Linked DNA regions of Homo sapiens: region 1 is linked to region 2. A link means that fine-mapping ties the variant in region 2 to the expression of a gene that starts in the linked region. Tissue or cell type: lung. Region 2 holds a variant in brackets; the other region holds the start of a gene. All regions are shown on one strand. Distances are from middle to middle.

Evidence for each region. PIP is the estimated chance that this variant, and not a neighbour inherited with it, causes the effect.
Region 1: it holds the start of HAUS7, and the variant in region 2 is fine-mapped to the expression of HAUS7 in lung (TOPMed, PIP 0.98). The same link has a PIP of 0.9 or more in breast.

What each region holds. Positions count from the first base shown.
Region 1 is chrX:153,466,549-153,474,639 of GRCh38, forward strand. HAUS7 (HAUS augmin like complex subunit 7) reads right to left here and starts at 4,028. Exons shown (of 10, transcript NM_001385482.1): 1 at 3,902-4,028; 2 at 2,598-2,713. The coding sequence starts at 4,009. RefSeq lists enhancers at 3,320-3,499, 3,650-3,749, 4,263-4,557 and a silencer at 4,080-4,389.
Region 2 is chrX:153,443,687-153,451,768 of GRCh38, forward strand. It overlaps TREX2 (three prime repair exonuclease 2), which reads right to left and starts at 2,370. Exons shown (of 2, transcript NM_080701.4): 1 at 2,323-2,370; 2 at 787-1,809. The coding sequence starts at 1,744. The coding sequence ends at 1,034. It overlaps HAUS7 (HAUS augmin like complex subunit 7), which reads right to left. Exons shown (of 10, transcript NM_001385482.1): 10 at 3,982-4,223. The coding sequence ends at 4,192. The variant C/A (reference allele first, on the strand shown) is at 4,393.

The DNA.
Region 1 (8,091 bases), 23 kb after region 2:
GAAAAGGCGGCCCTAAATGGGGCTGACAGGGTGCGGTCACGTACAAAGAAAGGCAATGGGAAATTCACAGGAAAACTCCCATCCATCTGATTCTCCTGTAGGACCCTCAAAAGGCCTAAGGAATTCTCGCCAACCTGAAATCAGACAACGTCATCGTATGCTCCCTGGCAGCTTTTTCAAAGGATTCGGTTTCTGGTATTTACAGAAGTACTACAGGTTGAATATCCCTAATCTGAAAACCTGAAATGCTCCAAAATCCTAAACTTTCTGATCGCCGATATGACGCTCAAAGGAGATGCTCACTGGAGCATTTGAGATTTCGGATTTTCAGATTAGGGACACTCGACCAGTATAATGCATATATTCCAAAATCCGAAGAAATCGAAATCTGAAACACTTCTGGCCCCCAGACATTTTGGATATGGGACACTCAACCTGTAGAAGCATCTGAGGGGCGTGGCTTTGGCCTCCTACCCGTCCCTCTCTGGCCAGATGACCCCAGTTCCCCAAGTGCCCCCAGCTTCCACCTGAGTCAGGCAAATCTGCGCCCCCTCCCACAAGAGCCTCCTCCTGGGAGCTCGCTCAAGACCCTCACACTCCACCCAGCCATCTCCAGTCCTGCCTCACCTCCCAGCCTCCCAGGTTCCCAGGCCAGGGGCTGGTCCCTCCAGGGCCAGTAGTGGCTGCCAGACAAGCCATCTGCCACTCAGCGCAGGGCTCCTTCTGTCTTTCCCTGGGGTATTGGTCTCCCTGCCTGCAGCCATTGCCCTCCAAATCCATCTGCCACAGAGCACCCTGAGTCACCTTACCAAAATGCCAATCTCAGCACGTCGCTCCCCAGGTTCCACGCCTGCCCTGCCCAGAACATAAAGCTCAAAGGCCTTGGCACAGCATGCAAGGCCCTGAGGGAGCTGCCCTGAGCTGCCATTCCAGCTGCTGCTGCCCAGCTCTCTCTCCCACACCTCAACTCCCTGCTCCTGTCCAAACGAGCACCCCGCTGTTACCGTCCCCATCCCAGATCAAATGCCACCTCCTCCCTGCCAACATCCACAGCACCCAACTCAGACTGCAGTGCTGTGCATCATTTCTGCTGAACCCCAGGACTTGTACCCACTAAATACCCAGCTCCTGAGGACACCCAGTCACGTCTGCAGCGCGTGGAATGGCACACAGGTGCAGCCTGGAGAACCCCCCGACTGCACGGCCACACCATGCTGCGGCTCCCATACTAAAGAGCCGGAAATGACAGCAGGCCAAGAGTGCACCCACAGGTTGAGGGCTCCAGCAGGGGCAGGGTGTGCTCAAAGGCTGTGGGCATCCAGAGGGAAGCGGAATACATTCTGCCCTGGGAACAGGAAACATTTTAAAAGGAGACAGGACGTGTGAGTTGGGTCTTTGCGGGCTGTACAGGAGGACGTACGACATGCAGAGACTAGAAGGCCATTTCCAGGAGGGGGAACAATGTGAGCAAGAGCAAAAGGTTATGAAGCGAGGAGCTGCTGTGCTGAGCCCTGGGGAGAGGCCTGAGGAAGGGCCTAGAAGGCAGAGGCAGGAGACGCCTCTGGAACAGCAAGGGCTCAAACACAAAAACGCCTCCTCCTTCCTCTGGGGGCCTGTATCCAGCTGGGCGTCCTGCTGATGTCTCTGGTCCTGGCGGGCCAGACCGGCTGGATGCAGGTTGGCTCCCCACTGCTCTACTGCCAGGCTCCCGCCCAGGCCCCTTCCTCAAGCAGCAAGGGTAGGCAGGCCGCAGGCTGAGGAGGGGGAGGCCCGGGCCTGGACTCACGAGAGGCTCCTGTACCAACAGACTACAGCTGTTCCTGAGCATGGCCTGGGCACACACCCAATCCCACAGGAGCCTGTGCTCTGTGGGAGGCGGGGAAAGCCTTCTCCACTCACAGCTGTGAGGCAGTGAGACAGACCCTCAGCTCAGGGACTACGTCACCAGGGGAAGGATGTCTGCCCTGGGAATGGGACACTCTGGATCATTTCCTCCACCATCACTCAGGAAGTCACCCTGTCACCATGGGCTTCATAGGGTGCCAGGCACACACCATGCTACACCCTGGCCCAAAGGCACCAGAGGACTGGGAAACGGGTCACGGCACAGAAGCTGACAAGAGGTGACACTGCATGAGGACCACTTGGCCAGCTGAGACCCAGCCAGGAGCCCACGCCCTGGCCCTGCCTGTCACTCCTCCACTGGGAGACCAGAGACTGTTCATGCCTCCAGCCTGACCCTTGGCTTCCGGGTCTGAGAAGGAAAGGACTGGAATGGAGCATTTCTCAGGTGCCTGCCAGTCCTGAACCTCCAAACTCATAAGGCAAGGCAAACGCTGAGGGCAAGTTCAGCACTGCAGCAAAGGGGTGGCTGGACTAGCCCAGCACCGCCAGGGGCCACTTTGCCCCAAGTTTGATCATGCCTGTCACCAGTACTCCTTACCTACACAGCTGTTCTCACGAGGGTCCAGGCTAGGGGGTGGAGCCCTCTGGGAAGACAGCTACTCACAGTAACCACAAACCCCATCTTCCCCAGGTGGGGCTGGCTGGCGCCCATGCACACCCCAGGTGGGAAGAGGAAGAAACTGATGCATTACCGGGTACACATCCACTCTAGGATCTCCAAGCGGTACTCTGAGGGGCTGCACAGCAGTTCCTGAATTGTCTTTGGCTCTGTGATATACAGACCCTCGAGGAAGGGGCAGTTTAGGTCCTAAGCAAGGAAAAGGAAAGCAACATTCACTGAAAGTCCCAGTGTACATCATTTCATTTTATTTATTTATTTATTTTTGAGACGGAGTCTCACTCTGTCGCCCAGCCTGGATGGAGTGCAGTGGCATGATCTCGGCTCACTGCAGCCTCCACCTCCTGGGTTCCAGCAATTCTCCTGCCTCAGCTCCCAGGGTAGCTGGGGGATTACAGGCATGCGCCACCACGCCCGGACAATTTTTGTATTTTTAATAGAGACGGAGTTTCACCATGTTGGCCAGGCTGGTGTCAAACTCCTGACCTCAGGTATCTGCCCACCTCAGCCTCCCAAAGTGGTGGGATTACAGGCGTGGGCCGCCGCGCCCAGTCCTCAGTGTACATCTGCAAGCTCCCAGGACCCTTTCCTTTACCCGCGTCCTGCCATCTTGCCAAGAGTTCAAGTCCCCCCATTCTTAACCCCACATCTCCCGCGGCATGCAGACCCCACCTCTTTCAAGTACTCCCACTCTGGGCTCTTGTGGCAGCAGGACCTAGGAGCAACGCCTGAGACTAAGACTTAAGAGAGAGTCCTAGGTTTCGGGACTGAGGGAAAGGGGAGAGGGAAAGGGAGAGGGACCACTGAGCCAGTCGCGGACAGGATGGGGGAGTGTCTGGGGGGAGGAGCGAGCGGGCCGAGGGGACCTGGGACAGCTCCCTAACCTCGTGGGCCAGCTTTCCTCACTGCTGCAGTGAGGGCTCTGTCCTGTGGGGCTGTAGAGGGCTTCTGGAGGCTATCACCCCTGGCATCTGACACCAACTGACACCAAGCCCTAGTCTCGCTGACTTGACAGAGTGGCACGAGGCTCTGCCCATCTGTCCCCCCAGACCCCGCAAGATCCCTAAGGCCAGGCCTGGGTCCTCTGTGTCTGCACTTGCTCCGAGCGCCCAGCGCGGGTACTGCAGTTCCACAGGCGGTGCTGGCCCCAACTACCAGGCACGGGCCGTGGAGACAGCAAGAACGAAGGCCTGGGGCACACCAAAGGGCAAAGATGAATGATCCACAAGCACCCCCTGCTGCAAGGGAACAGGGCGCAGCCGGAACCGGCGACGGTGGCCGCGTGGCGCCGCGGACTTCCGCAGCAAGCCCTCCCGGGCCTCGGGCGGGGCCCTCCCCGGTCCCCCGCCCTGGAGTGGCTTTCTGGGCCAACAGCACCTTCAGCTTCCCGAACACCTCCACAGCCGCCCTGGACACGCTGCTGTCGCCCTCGTCCTCTGAGTAGTCGTCGCCGCCACGGCCGCAGCCAGCGTCCTGCCCCGCCATGTTTCGCGCTCCGAGCCGCGCCCCGCCCATGCCCTGGCTTCACTGGCCGGCAAGACCGCCAATCAACCTCCAGCGTTCTTCCCGCCCACCCGCCTGCGCCCACCCCCTTCCCGACCGACCCTTCCCATTGGGCGACATCTCCGCCTGCGCGGGCCCCGGGCTCCCACCCCCCGCCCCGGCACCACCCAGAGGCAGGACCACAGTGAAGCGGGCAGGGCGGACACAGGGAAGGGGGCGGGGCGGACACAGGGAAGGGGGCGGGGCGGACACCGGGAAGGAGGCGGGGCGGACACCGGGAAAGGGGCGGGGCGGACACCGGGAAGGGGCGGGGCGAACGGGCCAAGCTGGCTCTGAGTCGCAGGCCTTGCTGGCGTCGCCCCTGCTGCCGGCCGGGAATGATGATGCGTTGAAGCGAGGCTCTTCCAGGAGGGGGCGCTCCTGCCTTGGTCGGGTTCTCCTGGGCCACCACCACTAAGGGGCACCCTGGTTCCCAGGAGGACCAAGGGGAGCCTTGGGTGCAGAATGGAACTCGGACTGAAGCGTTCCTCTCCCAGCGCGGGGCTCCGTCTTCTCTTCACCATGCTCACGCTGTAGTTAGAAGGAAATTTCTTGTCACTCACCAGCTGTGTGCCTTTGAACCAGTTACCTAACCTCTCTGTGCCTCTTTGCCCTCACCTAATGGAGCTAATGAGAGCACCTTACCCACTGGGTTGCTAATGAGGATGGCAGGCGGTAATAATTCCTGTGGAATCCCTAGAACAGTGCCCGGCGCATGCGAAGAACCACGTAAATGCTCACTATTGTAATACATGCTGGGCCCTGCTCCCCTCACGGCTCCTGGGGCTACCTGTGGCTCCTTCCTATCCTGTCTACTTAACAAATTTTTCTACATCCCTCAGGACCCTCAAACTCAATGCGTCTGCAATGAAATATGTCAGTCGCTCCTCCCCCAGACCTGCAAAGCCCCCAGTTCACTGAATGCCCCTTACCCAGGGACCTGCTGATTGGGCAAGGCAGGAAGGAGTTGGAGGGTGGCTTGTGCCCAGTAGCCAGGAGACAGCAGCAGGCAGCTGCCACTGTGCCCTCCTCTGTGCCCTACCCTGCCATCTCCTGGAGGGTGGGATCAGGGGGCAAGTCTATAGTCAGGGAGACCCAGGGACCTGCTGGGAGGCAACTGCAGTCATCCAAGTGACAGGAGGGGACTTCACTCCGTCCTGGGAGGAGGGAGCGGGCAGGAGTCCGGGGGTCACAGGAAGGGACCTCAGCCTGGGAGGCCCCGACACAGGCCCAGCGAAGTGCCTCAAGGTTGCTCTCTACCCTTCCACGTGGCTGCTGCCTCAGGCCCTTCTGGTAGCTGAGGGCTGTCAAAGGCTTTGGGATTTTTTTTTAAGCGTTTTTTTCCCTCTTTTTTGTTTTTGTTTTTCTTTCTTTCTTTTTAGAAAATTTCATCTCAATCACAGCCCCAGCTCAGACATTCAAATTCTTGTGGGTTTTTCTGTGGATCTTTCCTAGGACTGGGGAATTTGGCGGAAGAAACCACGGCAGTGTGGCAGCCTCCCCCAACCCTCCCCATATTCTCTGCTCCTGAGGACCGGGAAGAAACCAGCTCCTGTGTACTCTGGAAGAAAATCTCCCTCCTCCACCCAGCTCCACGGAGCCAGTGTGCTCAACAGGCCTCCCCAACCTCAGCAGTTCAGTCTATGGGACCCTGAGGAACTGGCAGGGCCTTGAGAGGCGAAGATCATCTTGAGAGGTTATGGAGGCCATCCCCCTCATGGAGAACCTGTTGGCCAGCCCTCAGCCCCTGGAGATGGTCGCTGAAGACCCAGCAGCAGGCTGCAGCTTCCCTGCCCACGCCACCCCACCACCCACCACCCACCACCCACCACCTGCCACCCACCACCCGCCCCCAGAATCATAGCACCTCCCAGGCATCTTCCTCCGGAAAAGCTGGAGGCTGGGGAGGGAACAGAGAGGCTGCTGGGCCTCTCAGGAAGGGGGAAAGAAGGGGCCCAGAGGTAGAAGCTTCTGGAAATGTGGACTCAAGCTCAGTCCAAGAAAGCACTCCTCCCAGAAATCACTGTCTGAACACCAGCTGGCTGCCAGGAGAGGAAGGGAGCTCCCGGTCCTAGAAGGTCTACAAGCCCAGGGAGGTGGGTGGGCGGGGATGTGGAGGGTTGAGTCCTACCATGGGGGAGGGAGGGGGCACATCTCTAAGGGACATTCCAACCCAGAGACCCCAGGTTCTCTGAGGGAGGCCTGGGTGGGTCAGGAGCCAAAAATGTGGCTGAAGGACCCATTGACCTGGAGGAGGGATGTTGGGGGGAAGCTGTGGATGTGGCGGGGAAGCTGGGGGGTCCTGGTCATGGAGGAAAGTTGGCCATGCGTCCCAGCAGGGCCTCAGCCGTGTCAGTGCTTGGAAAACACGTTGGAAAATGAGACTGGTTCACGGCACTGGCCCCGCTGTGCCAGAGATGGGCTGGCGGGTGCTGGTGGCATTCGAGACCTCTCAGTTTGTGTGGTGGGCCCAGAGATATATGGCCAAACAGTTGAGCTCACCAAGTGGGCAGCCTCCCTGACCTGTGGAGGGTATTGAAAAAGTCCTCAGAGCATCCGGGCCCTGCTCTTCATATGACCTTAAGGGCAGACCCCACGGTGCAGCGGGAATCAACCAGGGACCCCCCAATCCCCCAAAGACACCGCGAATCAAAGGAAGCTGAAGTCCAAGGGCTTTCCTCTCTGCAGAGGCGGGTCTGCTTCTGGCAGGGGCTGGAGTTAGACCTGAGGGGGAGCCACCCCACCTGGGGGCGCCTAGGCCCTAGAATGCTGTCAGAGCTAAAGCCCTAGAAGGCCTTGCTCCACGGGGCCACTTCGACTCCCGGCCCTGAACCAGGGAACCTGGGGAGGAGCCTTTGAGGGACTGAAGTGTCCTCCATCACCCCCCACCCCTGGCCACTAAAGTTCCTCAGTAAGGGTGGAGAGTACCAAATGCAAGCTGTTGAAGACAAGGCAAGTGTGTGCGTGTGTGTGCGTGTGTGTGTTTTGGGGAGAGTTCAGGTCTAAGATGAGAAGCTGATCACACCCATGCGAGAAGCAAGTGGTGAGCCCTGGCATTGGGTTTGAGGGAGAAATGTGACAGAGTAATGAGGTCAGGCTCAGGACGGTCTGAGTGTGAGGCTCTCCGCAGGCAAGGCAAAGCCAGGGGGCTGCCTCTGCCTCCCCTCCCCTCCCTCCCCGTCCTGTCCTCCTCTCCCTCTTCCTTCTCCTCATCTCCTCCCTGTCTTCCTGGGACCTCTCTGCTGCTAAGCTGCCAGGCTGAGCTGTTGGTCACCCATCCACCCTGCATCCTGGCATGCAGGCTCAGTACCCAGGTCTTGCGGGCAGCCCACGCCATCTGCACCAGCCAGGAGCCCACCCGAAACCCAGCCCTATCCTTGCAGATGGGGGAAGGGATGGAGAACACGAAAGCAGGGGTGGGGGCCTTGCAAATGAGACAAGGAAGTGGCTGTAAGCTTGGGGGAGCCCTGCGGCCTGTGGCCCTAACTCTGGAGGGACCACACTGTCAACCTGGGAGCTGCCTGAAGACTCAACTCTACAACGTTCTCCTCCTAGGCCTCCGTGTTCATCTTTGGAGTCTACTGGCATATGAGAATGGAGAGGCTGCCTTGGGACCTTGGCTTCCTCTTCCTGTCACTTCTAGTCCCTATGCTGGGCCTCCTGCTTTAGGGCCCCACCCTCACCTCCTGCAGTTGAGGGGCCCTCACCTGCCCCATCCTGCCCCCAGGCCACCAGCTCCTGCAAGAGCACATTCCGCAGCGCAGTCAGCATGGTACCACCATCGCCATCACCATCGCCTCCAGTGGGCCTGGAGGTGCTACCATCACCTACCCCGCCCTGTCCCCCAGGCCACAGGCTCCTGCAAGAGGGCAGGGCCTGCGACCTAGGGCGACCCTTGCTCTGAGGCCAGAGGCAGTTGTAGGGGGTGTGGACAGAGTCTGGCTGGCAGGGAGGCAGTGGCTCAGCGGTCCATCTTTGTCCTCCTGCCCCGGGCCCCAAAAATGGGAGGGATGGTCTGGGGCCCT
Region 2 (8,082 bases):
GCTTCCCAGATTGTCCAGCTGGCTGGAGGCTCAGGCTTTGCTCATGTGAGTCACTCTCAGGCGTGGCCACCCCATCCCTTCTTACCTGACCCAGCGTTGGTGACAGGTCTCTCCCCACCCATGAGGCCTCCCAAGACTGGAAGTGCCTCAGGGTGGGGCCCCTGAGGCAGGTTAGCAGGGAACCCAAAGCACAGTGCGGTGGCCAGAAGCTGCCCTCCCACCGAGCGGCCTCCTGGCCCTACGGGGACACGGGCTGCAGGATAGGCTCCCTTCCAGGGTCACCCTCACAGCACCAGCCACCCCACCTCTGCTCCGTGCACCGTCAGGGCCCTTAGCATGTACATGTACATGTGCATGCCCACATGTGGGGGCACCTCCCTTTTCCCCAGCACCCCGTTTCTTAACATTTCACCCTGTTACCACTTCACAGAGCAGGGACAGAGACTCCAGGTCCCACGGCGGGCAAGCGCTGCAGCTGAGCTTTGTGCCCAGGCAGGCGGCCGGCTCTGTGGGCTTAAGGCCCTACTCATGGCTTCTTTGGGCCTCTGGGGTGACAATGCAGATGGGCGGCAATCAGCCCACAGCCACAACCCATCAGCCCTCAGACCAACCCAAGAGCTTGACGTCTCCCTACCCAGCCACCCACGGTCCTCACCGCGAGGAGAGGCCATAGGGGGGCGGCCCTGGAGGTCTTGTGCTGGCCCCTGGCATGGCTCACCGCCTGGCCCTGCTCAGCAGGGGGTCGAGGGAGTCCAGCCCCTAGTATCTGGCCAGCTAGTCGGAGGGTGAGTAGTTGGCAATGTTTATTGGGAAACAGCAAACTCTGCTGGGCACCCAGGCCAGCCGGGAGAGCACGGCCCTGGAAGCGGGGCCTGGAGAGGAATCCAGGGCCGTATGGCTGGTCAGGCAGCCAGGGAAGGCCTGGCAGGTGCACGGACCTGAGGCTGCCCAGATAGGAGGAGCCGGGGGTGGTAGAGGCCAGCTGAACGGTGGAGGCTGGCACTGTCCATGGCACAGGAGGTGGCCCTGGTGCTCAGGCCTCCAGGCTGGGGTCATCAGGCGGCAAGTACATGGGCTCGATGTGGGCCCACCCACGGGCCTGCTCATCGGCCCAGGCGAGCAGCTCTGCGGCGCGGTGCAGGAAGATCAGGAGCAGGGTGTGCACGTCGCCCTCGGCTGAGTGGGCTGCGCTTGGCTCTGCCCGGAAGTAGCGGTGGAAGAGGCTGCCGAGGCTGTAACCCTGGCGGCCCCGGGCCCGGGTGCCGTGGCTGTGGGCGCGGTCCAGGCCCCGCAGGGCCGGCAGCGTGTCCAGGCAGACAGTGTCCCGGGGCAGGCGGGCACCCAGGCGCCGCAGCTCGGCACACAGCAGGGGGAAATCATAATCAAAGCCATTGTGGGCCACAAGGCAGATGGGCCCTGCCTGGCGGCTCAGGAAGGCCTGCAGCGTCCGCACCACGGCGCCATCAAAGCCAGCCTTCCGGCATCGCGCCAGGCCCTCACTGCTCAGGCCGGTGATCTCGCTGGCCTTGGCAGTGAAGGGGCGCTCCGGGCACATGCACAGCGTGAGCTTGTCCAGGACCCGGGGCAATACTAGGGCACCAGACTCGTCGTGCTCCGGGTTCTCCAGGGAGGAGCGGTGGACAGCAAAGAGGGACAGCTCGGCAATCTCGGGCTCCACACTGGGGAGCCCAGTGGCTTCCAGGTCCAGGAAGACAAAGGTCTCGGCCCGGGGTGCCTCGGACATGGTGATGTTCCCACGGGGATAGCAAGTCCTCAAACTGTCCGAGCGAGAGGCACAAACCCTGAGGACTGGAGAGAGGGGTTCGCCCGGGCCCTGCTGTGTACCATCCTCCCCCTAGCCAAAGCTCTGACCCTTCTGGGGCTCACTTCCTGCCACCCCCGACCACAGCACCTGTGACCTTTGGCTCTGGGAGCGTCAGCCCCACTCCTGTCACCTACTGAACAGAAAAGGCAGGCCTCAGAGCGCTCTACTGCCTGCCTCCAGCCACAGTCCCCAGCAGGGATTGGGAGAGGCAGAGGCAGCTCAGGGACCGCACCTTGGCGGGGTCCAGCCCCTTCACCGGAATGCCTTGGCTGGGAACCTGGGGCATAGCACACTGGGTCTCCAGCCCTGGAACCAGCTGCCGGGAAGCAGGCAAGCAGCCACCCGAAAGAGCCCATGCAGTGCACCCAGCTCCCGCTGGGCTCGACCTCCCCACCCTTGTCCCTGGCACACAGGTGCTGGTCCCGAGCTGGCCTCTGCCTGCTTGCCCCCAGGCTCCCGGGGAGACTGTCCTTGCCAACCCCACCACACCAGCTTACCTGGGGCGGGCACTGACCGGCTTCCTGGGCTTCTGGGCACCTGTCGCCACACAGGCTGCTCTAGGCGGCCTTTAATCAGCGGCCGCAGCCCGCCCCCAGCTGCCTGTTGGCCAACAATGAGGCCTGGGGCCTCAGGACCTGCGCAGCCGGCTCGCTCGCCACCCCCTCGCTAGCTCACAGCCACTGAGACACACGCCCCGTGTTTACAAATTAGGAAGCAGGCCCCGAGCTCTTCACAGGCACGGGGAGGAAGCCAGAGTGGTGCGGAAGGCAGTAACCTCCACCTAGCCAGGCTGTGGCTGCCAGGCCTGGCAGGCCTGGGGTCAATGCCTCCCCCATGCTGGGGCCAATGCCTCCCCCATGCTGGGGCCAGTTACACAAAGGCAACAGGTCCTCTTTGCCAGGCCTCAGTCTCCCCGTCACTGGAGATCAGGTGCCGCTCGTGGGGATGAAGCGAGCTCTGGAGTGTGACCAAGGTGCCCACACATGCCGTGCTCAGCCTCCAAAGGGGAAGGGGTGCTCCCCCAAAACCTAGGGATGGGGCAGCCTCGGGAGATGCTATCTGCTTTAAGGACGTCGCTTCATCATGTCTACCGTGCACCTAACAGTGGCTGCTGGGGAAGGAAGGGAGGTGGGCCTGGCCCGGGAGCTGTGCAGGCCGCAGCTGAGCTAATGCTTCCTCCACCACAGATAAGCAACGTTAGGGGGTGGGCCAGGAGCGCCGGGACTACAGGAGGAGTGAAGCCCAGCCCCTCGGACCCCAGGCTCAGGGACCTGCCCTGTCTATCCCGCTCCAGGCAAAGGGCACCAGGTCCTTCCCGGTCCTGCGAGCAGTGGCGCCCTGAAGACCTCATTCTGGAGCAAGAGACAACAGCCCTTGATGGTGGGTGCACTGCAGGGCCAGCCCCATGCTGGGGGCACAGAGAGGTGACCAAGAGGAGTCCCTTGGCCTATAAATCAGGTGGTGCACCTGCACCATGGTGACCACAGGCCTGCCCGGCCTCCCACCTCTCACAGTGGTGGCTGGGGGATGCCTCAGGCGACTGGGATGGAGGGGGGTCTGGCACCTGGCTCCTCCTGGCCTCCTTGCCTTGTGTGCCCACAGGGACCTTGGGGAAGCAAAGGAGATGGTGCCAGGAGGGAGCAGGGTGGGGCGGGCAGCAGCAGGTACAATGGCCCCAAGGAGGCAGAGGCCCTACCAGTCACGCCTGTTCCGGTACTCACAGGGAGGGAGGCAGCTGTGACAGGCACACTGCTCAGGGAGATACTGGGTCACCCTGGGAAGCCCAGACAGCATCTTCCTGGACAACCAGTCAGGCTGAATTCCCCAGCCCAGAGCTGAGCGCCCAGCCAGGGAGGAGCAGGAAACTGGTACCCCGCGGGGGATCCAGGGGCACTCAAGGAGGGCGGCTGAGGGGTGCGTCTCGCACAGGACCCTAAGGCCAGCCGGGGGAGGCGACAGTGGGTTCTCTGCTTTCAAGTGGCTGGCAGCAGCAGGGAGGAGTGGAGCCACAGGAAGAGGACGCAGCCCAGGCCCGCCAAGATGACAGGAGGGCCGCCGCCAGCCTGCCCAGACCTGGGCCACCTGAGCAGCTCAGGACAAGGGGAAGGAGAGAGACATAGAGCTGAGGAAGCAGAAAGCAGGCTGGAGGCAACTGCTTAGAAACCAAGGCTTTCTTTGTGTCCAAGTCAAACCGCCCGTCTGTCTCTCCCTCCCCAAAGGGGCCAAAGGTCCCTGCCTAGAGCACAACGTGGGGCTGCAACGGCTTCTGCTGCCACAATCATCCATCCTCGGCCAACTCGATCTTGGGAGAGGGCTTCCTGCCCGCCCCATCCTGTGCTTTGGCGTAGGCCATCACTGAAGACTTTCTATTTCTCCATTAGTTCATTCATCTTGGTAGCTGCAGAGGAAAGAAAAGAAACCAAAAGGATGGTGGGAGTGTAAACTAGTTCCACCATTGTGGAAGTCAGTGTGGCGATTCCTCAGGGATCTAGAACTAGAAATACCATTTGACCCAGCCATCCCATTACTGGGTATATACCCAAAGGACTATAAATCATGCTGCTATA[C/A]AGACACATGCACACGTATGTTTATTGCAGCACTATTCACAATAGCAAAGACTTGGAACCAACCCAAATGTCCAACACTGATAGACTGGATTAAGAAAATATGGCACATATACACCATGGAATACTACGCGGCCCATAAAAAAAGATGAGTTCATGTCCTTTGTAGGGACATGGATGAAGCTGGAAACCATCATTCTCAGCAAACTATCGCAAGGACAAAAAACCAAACACCGCATGTTCTCACTCATAGGTGGGAACTGAACAATGAGAACACTTGGACACAGGAAGGGGAACATCACACACTGGGGCCTGTTGTGGGGTGGGGGGAGGGAGGAGGGATAGCATTAGGAGATATACCTAATGTAAATGACGAGTTAATGGGTGCAGCACACCAACGTGGCACATGTATACATATGTAACTAACCTGCACGTTGTGCACATGTACCCTAGAACTTAAAGTATAATAAAAATATATATATATAAAATAAATAAATAAAATAAACAAATAAATAAATAGAAAAGAAACCAACAGGAAAGCGAGCCTGGCGCAAGAGGCGAGGTGCCTCCTGCCCACCACTCAAGGCACATGTCCTCAGCTGATCCTCCTTGAGCCCCAGGCACCACCAGGATGGCAGGGAAGGGACAGGCACTGCCGAGCTGGGAGCTGCTCAGGCTCTGTGGGGACCAGGCCAGCAGCTTGGGAGCCCTGGGCTGGGTCACACCGACCGCAGCACAGTTCCGAGACCCAGGCCAGGGTCTGTTGACCCGGCTGTGCCCCCGCCCACCTGCCCCCTGCCCCCCAAGCCCCAGGGGCAGCACATGGCACACAGTGAGGAGGCAGGGGCTGTCCTGACTTCAGTGGCACGTTCAGTATTAACCAGATGGAGAACACTGCACACACAATAAACCCAATCACACAGACAGCCCTAAGCCTTGGCTGCCCGGCCCAGTGGCGACCGTGGTGGCTGCGCTGACCTTATCTGCCATGACCACATCTGCCTCTCAGTTGCCAACCCTAGACCATGGCCATCATCCCCCTCCCCCAGCAGACAGAGGAGGACACAGCCCCTCACCTGCCCTGCCTGTCCGCTCCCCATCCGTGGCCCCACTGTCAGCTAGACTTTGCCTTTTACATGTTGAAGTCATTAGCATTGACATTAAGTGCTGTGAACCCTGAATCTGTCATCCTCTGCCCATCCCGAGGGTGACTCTGAAGCTCAGGAATCCTGGGGTGTGCCTCGGGGTGACACCGAGCTGGGGAATGTGCTCAGCCCGCCTGGAATTGCGCCCCAGGACCCTCTCCACTCGCCATCAGCTTCCAGTGGCATCCCAGCAGAGGGGCTTCCTGCCGCAATGCGCACTGCTCTAGACTGTCTTCCTAGGCTCCGGACTGTGTCCCTCGTGTGGCATCTGCCCTTATCAAATCGTCTAGACCTCCATCCCGGCCTTCCTGCTCTGCCCTCACTCTTGGTGCAGGGCTTGGCAGGGTCCAGAGCCCAAGGCCGGGTGTGCAGGGCCCTCAGTGCTTGTAAGGCATCCTGGCTGCTCCTCTGAGGCCACAGGCTGTCTCTCTTGAAGCTTTGGCCCCAGCCCTTGGCCCCTGTACTCCAGATGGCAGGAGGTGGGTTCCATCTACCCTGTGCTCGGCGCCTGCACTCACCTGGCTTGTACTGTGTGCCCACCTCCTCCGGAGCCCTGCCCTTCATCTCCCCTGTCCCCTGCCCTGGAGACCCTGTGCCTGGCTGGGGCCTGTGTGATGCTGATCTTTGTGCTGGTTTTTCTCTCTGTTTTCTCTCTTCTTAGAGATCCCAGCCTCACTTCGTTTCTAGTCTCTTTGTGGCTGGGTTTTCACAGCTGTCCAAGCATGTCTGGATGTCGCACTGAGTGTATTCAGTGGTGTCGGAAAGTCCTTCAGGTCAGATTTCCTGCTCATCCAGGGCTTCCTTCTCTCCTGCATGGGGCTGCTTTTCGAGCCACAGGGGCTGGGAAGAGGATCTGGGTAGCTGCCACTGCCCCTGGTCTGCTGTGGTGGAGCCGTTGCCTGTGGGGTCTCTCTCTGGAGGACAGTTTGGAGGAGTTCCATGGAGGCGAGGCAGGGATCAGCTCTTGCCCCATGGACCCTCAGAGGCTGCAAAAAGGTAGGTTTCACCCGGGCTGCCGCCAGCCACATCAGCCACATCAAGAGACGAGCTGGGAGCCGCTCAGGCTCTGTGTGAGCCGGGCCACCAGCTTGGGAGCTGGTTTGCTTATTCATTTCCATCACTTTCTTCACAGAAGAACAGGCTAGGGTCTCGCCGGGGAGGTGGGCCTCTCCAGACCTGCTTCACCTGTGCCCTCTGCTTCCATCTGCTCACCACTGCCCTGTCCCTGGCACCCCGCTGCCCCTTGGGCTGTCCTCTAGGCTGCCACCTTCCCCGCCCGCTGAGCCCGTCACCACTGCCGGGGTTGGTGGCATCTCTCCACTGTTGGTACCCTCAACTCTCCTGTCCCATTCTTGCACTGACAGCATTGCTTCGGTTTCTAAATACATTGATGTTTTCATGGCAGTGAGGTTTCAGGAAGCCTGGGGGGCGACTCCTGGTGTGTGGTGCTGATCCACAGTGCCAAGGCCCTCCCAACTCACATGAGGCCATGCCCCCAGCAAGAGCCCAGAAGGCACACTGGCTGCTCCTCACTTCATAGGTGGTGCCGCACCTCCAACAGAGCCTGGCTGCGGGCATGCAGATCGCTGGGAGGTGAAACAGCACAGAAACACGGCCTTCCACAGCGGGAGGAGGGCCATCGAGACCACGGCCCTCAAGGGGTCAGATGGGAAACGGGACAAATAAAGAACTGTCCCGAGTGGCCTTTGGCGTGGATTTGATGCTGACCCTTTCTCTGGTGTGTCCAGACACTAAGAATTCATCTCAAGCCACATCAGGATGCTGAACTGATGGGAGCTGAGTTGAGAGCCCCTAGAGAGGCCGATGCCCGCCGTAGGCCTGCTCCCCTGGCGTCTCTCCAGACCCCCAAAGTGGCCGGGGCTCAAGGGTGAAGAGACACTTCCCTGTACACAACGCACTGCCCAGTTCACACGGCCTGGATGTAAAGGGTGCCTTTCTGGTAAGAACAGATACTACACTTGATCTTAGCCAAGAAGCGATAAGGGGCCTTTCTGAAAGGCAAGACCTGCCACCAGTCCTATGGTGCCACAGTCACAGGTGAGATGGCACACTGTTGCGAATACCAATGATCATTATAAGAATGATGGCATAGATTATAAGCAGTTTACTAACAGCAATTATAAAAACTGGGAAGAGAGTCATAGTGACTGGTGATTAGGATAAACGCTATAATACATTTTAAAGTGGAGGGTTCTGCTGCAGTTCAATTGGCAAGAAGAGGCTCCTCAGTGCCTGGTATACATGGGGTAGTTATGTGCCGAGGCCAAGAGCAGTGAGAAGCCTGGCTCTCCGAGGAGACGGCTGGCTGGAGGGTTCATCCAAAGACAGTCTCCAAAACTAGGGCTCAGAGGCTATGGACCTGAAACCACTACTTGGGGGTGCAACAGTGGAAAACATTTACAGCAAATGCTTTAGCTGCTGCTGCCTGAGGCAGTGCATAATAGCCGGGGCAAACAAGAGACTAAACAAGAAGCTCAGGAGAGGCTGGAAAATCAGATGTCCACAAAGGCTCTGGAAAGCTCTGGCA